Linked DNA regions of Homo sapiens. The protein of the gene in region 2 purifies or fractionates together with the protein of the main gene of each other region. This does not show direct contact. Each region holds a gene or a part of one and is shown on either strand. Other genes may lie near its edges.

Region 1 (3,817 bases), on a different chromosome or scaffold from region 2:
AACAGAAAAAGGCAGTTCCAGAGTGATCAGGAAAGGCTCAGTAAAGGAATTACAACCAAAGGGGGCAGGCAGAAGAGTGTCCCATGAGAGAGAAGAACATGAGCAAAGGTCCAGGGACAGGATTCAGGACGGCCAGCTTGTGACAGGCTTAGGCAAGTCACAGGGAATAGGGAATGGAGGAAAGGCTGTGAAGGGCTATTCTGTCTCTCACCTTCTGTCATTTTAATGAGAAGTAAAAAATAGGGAAACTCCTTGTCCGGACCATAAAAGCCAGAGGAAAATGAAAATACTAAGGGATGATACACTTTCCCAGTCCGGGATTACCGCAATTTTCCAATCATGGGGTTGAAATGCTTAACCAAGACAGTATTAGACTCTGGACCCAGTAGCTGTGACAGCCCTCGCGAGTAATGACTGAGAGATTAGGGAACCATATTCCTAAAGCAACAGTCAACAGAGTCCCCTCTGCCTCTCAAATAAAGCTGAGTCACTTAGAGGAGGCAGGAGGAACAGGGGCAGAGCAGCCAGTTGGCTGTGCCAGTCACAGTAATTATTTGCATGGAAATGTTCAGATACCATTTTCTCATAACTATCAATCAACCACTATTCTAAAACTAGAGAAAAAAATATATATCTATCTATCTTATTTTATATATATATATAATTTTTTTTTTTGAGACAAGTCTCACTCTTCACCTAGGCTGGAGTGCAGTGGCACAATCTTGGCTCACTGCAACCTCCACCTCCCAGGTTCAAGCGAATCTCCTGCCTCAGCCTCCCGAGTAGCTGGGATTACAGGCGCACGCCACCATGCCCAGCTAATTTTTGTATTTTTAGTAGAGACACGGTTTCACCATGTTGGCCAGACTGGTTTCGAACTCATGACCTCAGATGATCTGCCTGCCTCAGCCTCCCAAAGTGTTGAGATTATAGGCGTGAGCCACTGTGCCCAGCTGAGAAGATATATTTTAAAATTACTATATTATATATATATCAATTAATAAAGTACATTTTCCACTTACCTTAAGATCTCTATGAATTAATTTTTTTGAATGTATATAATCCACCCCTTTTGTTATTTGTTCAAAGAGTTCCAAAGCCAAAACTTTGTCTAGTTTCTCGCCTCTTCTTTTTTCAATCCATTGTTCCAAGGTCCCTTTATCACAGAATTCCATTTGGATGAAAAGGCACTTAGTCTTTGACCTGGGTATAAAATTCACAGTATGTTAAAAGTAACAATAAATATAAATTTATAAAAAATTTTTTATAACTTTTTAAAGTTTTTCATAACTTTTTAAAAGCTTATACCTTATCTTCTTAAGAACCCCAAAAACACTTTGGGAGGCCGAGGCGGGCGGATCACGAGGTCAGGAGATCGAGACCACGGTGAAACCCCGTCTCTACTAAAAATACAAAAAATTAGCCAGGCGTGGTGGCGGGCGCCTGTAGTCCCAGCTACTCCGGGGAGGCTGAGGCAAGAGAATGGCGTGAACCCGGTAGGCGGAGCTTGCAGTGAGCCGAGATCACGCCACTGCACTCCAGCCTGGGTGACAGAGCGAGATTCCGTCTCACAAAAAAAAAAAAAAAAAGAAAAAAAAAGAACCCCAAAACATGTCACAAAATAGAAATCTAAATATAATAAACAAATTTGAATCAAAATATAATAGGCCATTTTTTATTTCAATCATAAGTTCCCGGATGTCCAGAGCTTTATTTGTTTAGCTAATTTATAAAATATGAGCTGGGCTGGGCACGGTGGCTCACGCCTATAATCCTAGCACCTTGGGAGGCCGAGACTGGCGGATTGCTTGAGCTCAGGAGTTTGAGACCAGCCTGGGCAGCATGGCGAAACCCCATCTCTACTAAAAACACAAAAATTAGCTGGGTGTGGTGGCGCGGCACCTGTAGTCTCAGCTACTCGGGAGGATGAGGCACGAGAATCATTTGAACCCAGAAGGCAGAGATTGCAGTAAGCTGAGATCACGCCATTGTGCTCCCGCATGAGCGATAGAGTAAGACTCTGTCTCAAAAAAAAAAAAAGAAGAGGCCGGGCGCGGTGGCTCACGCATGTAATCCCAGCACTTTGGGAGGCCGAGGCGGGTGGATCACGAGGTCAGGAGATCAAGACCATCCTGGCTAACACGGTGAAATCCCGTCTCTACTAAAAATACAAAAAATTAGCCGGGCGTGGTGGCGGGCGCCTGTAGTCCCAGCTACTCAGGAGACTGAGGCAGGAGAATACTGTGAATCCGGGAGGCAGAGCTTGCAGTGAGCCAAGATTGCACCACTGCACTCCAGCCTGTGCGACAGTGCGAGACACCGTCTCAAAAAAAAAAAAAAAAAAAAAAACGAGAAGAAAAAAAAAATGAGCCACCCATTCTTCATTGCTGAAGATCTGCAATCACCATTGCTAACAGATAGAAATAGGAACATGAATACAATGCAGGAAACTAAATTTCATTATTATATAAAGTAACTTTGAAACCTTTTAATTCACCATTGATCTACTAAGCATGAAAGGCACCTAGAGATGAGAAAATCAGTTAGACACTATATCCTTGCCGTCACGGGGATAATAGTCTAATAGGAGAGAGTAAAGGGAAAGCAAACCTAAAACAATAGGGAAGGTACTCTAAGAGAAGTGCCAACAAATTACTAAGATACATAAATTGGAGGCTTGATTTTTTTTTTTTTTTTTTTTGCTAACCACGTTTTATTTTTTTTCTGAATTAAGTTAGCCTCAATATTCATTTATATTCTTTGTATATATGTCAGCTTGAAAACAGGAAGAGGTAGCCAAGAATTTGCTGAAAGCTGAAGTCCTGTATGCTGACGGTCAATAACTCCTGAACTGATGATAATGTTCTCACTTACACGACATGGAGATGGAGGTGGGGCAGGAGAAAATGAATGAATGGGACCCCATTGGCCTCAGGATTTTAGTGAGAGGACTGTCCCCATAATAGGTTGGGTGACTTTCAAAGACAGATGCCAGCTCTTTAGGATCTCCAGTTGTTTGGCAATGGCTTAACTGACATAAAACATGAGGGTGCCCCCATCTCAGCTTGTGGTCTTAAAAATATTTTCACTCCCCACCACCCCAGCATAAGTGGTATAGTTACATTCCAAAGAGACCCTCTGACGGCACCACACCAATCACAGCCTAAGAGAGGGACAGAAAAGTGTTGGTAGCTGAGGAGGGAGCCCCCAGATGCAGCATCTATATGTTAAAACTCTCTTCACAAGACTACACTTAAACAGCCTGCGCTGAAGCCGGCACGTGAACAAGGCTCTCCATGAAACAATGGAGTCAGGAAAGCTGAACCTGAGATTTTGCAGACAGCTGAGGATGTAACAGAGGGTTGTGAGAGCAAGTCTGCAGCAAGAGGAGGAGCAAGGAAGAGATTTTCACTTTCTCCTTACCTTCGGAATGGAGAGATAACAGTGTCTCTCAGAGGGAATTGTGATAATTAATCGTGATGATTAATAGCCTTATCCAGTGGCCCATACATAGTAAATAACAATTTCCTTCCATCCTATTATGGCTATGAGAATTTATTTTTAGTTACCTTGAACTATTTTTGCTGTTCTCAGGATCATAATCACTGCTCTCAAGAGAATCATCACTGGTCTCAGGATCATAATCAAATCCATCCCAACAGCCATTGTAGTGAACAATATTTACATGATCAAGTTTTGCCAATGCTTTTACTTCACGCTCCGCCTTCCTAGTTAAAAGGAACAGGGAACATGGCAGTGTCAGTGTACATCCCTCATAACAACCACAAAACACCTCATGTAATAGACAACTGTCTAC
Region 2 (3,817 bases):
TGGACAATGACAAATTGAGAGCAATCATGGAAGCTGATCCTCTTACAACTACATGAGAAGGGGCCAAAGAACTCAGAATCGACCATTCTACAGTCATTCAGCATTTGAAGCAAACTGGAAAGGTGAGAAAGCTCGGTAAGTGGGTGCCTCATGAGCTGAGCGAAAATCAAAAAAATCATTATTTTGAAGTGCCGTCTTCTCTTACTCTACGCAACAACAATGAACCATTTCTCGATCAGATTGTGACATGTGATGAAAAGTGGATTTTACATGACACCTGCGACAACCAGCTCAGTGGTTAGACCAAGAAGCCGCTCCAAAGCACTTCCCAAAGCCAAACTCGCACCAAAAAAGGTCATGGTCACTGTTTGCTGGTCAGCTGCTGGACTGATCCACTACAGCTTTCTGAATCCCGGTGAAACCAGCACACTGGAGAAGTATGTGCAGCAAATCGATGAGATGCACTGAAAACTCCAATGCCTGCAGCCAGCACTGATCAACAGAAGGGGCCCAATTCTTCCCCAGGACAATGCCCGACCACGAGTCACACAACCAATGCTTCAAAGGTTGAACAAATTGGGCTGCGATGTGTTGCCTCATCCACCATATTCACCTGACTTCTTGCCAACCGACTACCACTTCTTCAAGCACTTTGACAACTTTTTGCAGGGAAAGCACTTCCACAACCAGCGGGATGCAGAAAATGCTTTCCAAGACTTCTTCAAATCCCGGAGCATGGATTTTTACGTTATAGAAATAAACTTATTTCTCATTGGTGAAAATGTGTTGATTGTAATGGTTCCTATTCTGATCAATAAACATGGTTTGAGCCTAGTTACAATGATCTAAAATTCACGGTCCAAAACTGCAGTTACTTTTGCACCAACCAAAACTTTTGCATGACTCTGCCAGTCCGTCCTTATCAGCTGCTTTCATTAGGATTCAAGAGCAAATCCCAGGGAGCCCTGAGGCAAAGCAACCTCAGAAATAACAGGGGTGCTTTTTAAAAAAAAATTTTTTTTATTATTATTGTAGAGACAGGGTTGCACTTTGTCACCCAGGCTGGAGTGTAGTGGTGCGATCATAACTCACTGCAGCCTCAGCCCCCTGGGCTCAAGCGATCCTCCTGCCTTGGCTTCCCAAAGTGCTGAGATTACAACTGTGAGCCACCATGCCTGGTCCCTAAAGATGCTTTTTCATTTCAAGATATTTAGGGGCTGTTGTTAGAATCCTCCTCAGCTCTCATTGTAAAAGTTGAGAGACCACTTATGTAAACACACAGATACACATATAAACATACAGCCTATATACCATGTAGTCACTTGAGGGAGTCATAAACCGTAATTTAAGAAACATGCTAAATGGGAAGTTTGGTTGCAGCACCTTGTTAAAATACAGATGCGGCCGTGTGTGGTGGCTCATGCCTGTAATCCCAGCACTTTGGGAGGCCGAAGCAGGCGGATCACCTGAGGTGAGGAGTTCAAGACTAGCCTGACCAACATGGTGAAACCTCGTCTCTACTAAAAATATAAAAATTAGCTGGGTATGGTGGCAGGCACCTGTAATCCCAGCTACTCAGGAGGCTGAGGCAGGAGAATTGCTTGAACCCAGGAGGCGGAGGTTGCAGTGAGCCGAGATTGTGCCACTGCACTGCAGCCTGGGGGACACAGTGAGACTTTGTCTCAAAAAAAAAAAAAAATACAGACCTGAAGGAGACACAGAAATCAATGTGATCACTGAAGTCCTGACTTGCAAGCTCTGGACAATCTGTAACCAGTTGGAGGGTCATAAGGAACTTGCTCTCTGCTCAGGTAGTAGAAGTCATTGCTCTACATTCATGACCCCTACAGGTCATGCAGAGGAACTACTACTGACTGCAAGGACAGCTCACCCAGCCACCACCCCTGGCCCTTAAGTGTCATCACAGTTAGGCCATGCCGCTTACCGCTTCTTCCGGCGCTTTGCGGTCTGCTCCTCTGCAGCAATTTTATTCTTTTCCAGTCTTTTCTGAAACTCTGCATCCAATTTTTGCTGCAACAAAACCCACATCATTTAGACACGCTCTGGTCTGGGCAGACTGTGGGAGGTTTTGCTCAGGCAAAGTAGGAGAGTTCTAGAAGTCACACCACTGGGGGTGACGGAGGCACTACCCGGGTCCCCAGGGCCATTTTAACTTTAAAAGGCTGTCCCAGAGGCAGGGCAGGTAATCAATACATAGGTCTCCGATGGCGAAGTAACTCTTTTAGTTGACTGAGGCACCACTCATGCATAGCACAATATAGGAGACAATACAGGAGGGAGTGCAGAGGACACTCTGAGGGCAGCGCTCACCATCTGCTCAGCCGGGGCCTTGGATACTGCCCAGAGCTCATCAGAATGAATGGCCGGAGGGTCAGAACCATGGAATTTTCAAGCCCTAAGCCCAACCATAGTTACCAAATGGCTGAGTTTTTTTGTTTTTGTTTTGAGACAAGGTCTTACTCTGTCGCCTAGGCTGGAGTGCAGTGGCACAATAGCTCACTACAACCTTGAACTCCTGGGCTTGATAGATCGTCCTGTCTCAGTCTCCTGAGTACTTGGGACTATGGGTGCATGCCATTACATCTGGCTAATTTTTATGTTTATTTTGTAGAGACAGGTCTGGCTATGTTGTCCAGGCTGGTTTTAAATTCCTGGCCTGAAAGGATCCTCCCACCTCAGCCTCCCAAAGTGCTGAGATTACAGGCCACTGTGCCCAGCCACCAAATGACTGATTCTAAAGCAGCGTAACACACGCCATCTGCTGCCATGACCTGCTGCTAAGCACACACCCACACCCACACAGATATTTGTAAGTACTGCATTACTTCTTCTCAGCAGTTCTGTCTCCAAGCCTCAGTCTACTCATCTATAAAATGGGGAAAATTGTAATTCCTCTCTCCCAGAGCTGTTAGGAACAATAATGAAATAAGGGTTTGGGCACAATGGCTCATGCCTGTAATCCCAGTACTTTGGGAGGCTGATACTCAGGAGGCTGAGACAGGAGAATCACTTGAACCCAAGAGGCAGAGGTTGCAGAGACCGGAAATTGCGCCACTGCACACCAGTCTAGGCGGCAGAGGGAGACTGTCTCAAAAAAAATAGAAAACCACCTGTAAACTACAAAGACATCTACTGATTCAAAGTGTCATCTCTTGTTTCTTCCAGTCACAGCCATAAAGGTCAATGGAGCAAAAAATAAGGAGCCGGCAAAGGAGGAAGAGGTGCCTTCAACACCTCTGCTGGTCTGCACCGCCAGGGCTGTACGCATCTGCTTACAGTGGCACAGAAACCAAACCAAACAAGCCCTCTCTCTGAGGGCAGAAAATATTCCTTCAGGAAGGAAATCAACTTTAATTAATCAACTTTCTGGACAACCAAAAAGCAAATGACTTAAATCTAAAAGATCTGATTTGCTTAGAAGCTGAGCTGTGAAGTCCGGGTGCGGTGGCTCACTCCTGTAATCCCAGCACACTGGGAAGCTGAGGTGGGCAGATCACCTGAGGTCCAGAGTTCGAGACCAGTGTGGGCAACATGGTGAAACCCTGTCTCTACTAAAAACACAAAAATTAGCCAGGCCAGGTGGCAGGCACCTGTAATCCCAGGTACTCGGGAGGCTGAGACACTAGAATTGCTTGAACCCAGGAGGCAGAGGCTGCAGCAAGCCAAGATTACACTCCAGCCTGGGTGACAGAGTGAGACTCTGTCTCAGAGAAAAAAAAAAAGCTGAGCCGTGAATGTCTTACTCTGTGCTGCTGAAGAAGCCAAATTTACCAGCAAGTGAACTAAACAGAGCCCC

What was found.
Region 1: the proteins of PRKRIP1 (region 2) and EIF2AK2 purify together in Homo sapiens (affinity purification with western blotting, with the first as the bait; one study listed by BioGRID). This does not show direct contact.

Annotation. Positions count from the first base shown.
Region 1 is NC_000002.12:37,118,937-37,122,753, forward strand, and holds part of EIF2AK2 (interferon-induced, double-stranded RNA-activated protein kinase), read right to left. Parts: intron 3,729-3,817; coding exon 3,570-3,728; intron 1,204-3,569; coding exon 1,023-1,203; intron 1-1,022.
Region 2 is NC_000007.14:102,402,812-102,406,628, reverse strand, and holds part of PRKRIP1 (PRKR-interacting protein 1), read right to left. Parts: intron 2,032-3,817; coding exon 1,946-2,031; intron 888-1,945; exon of another isoform or gene 1-887.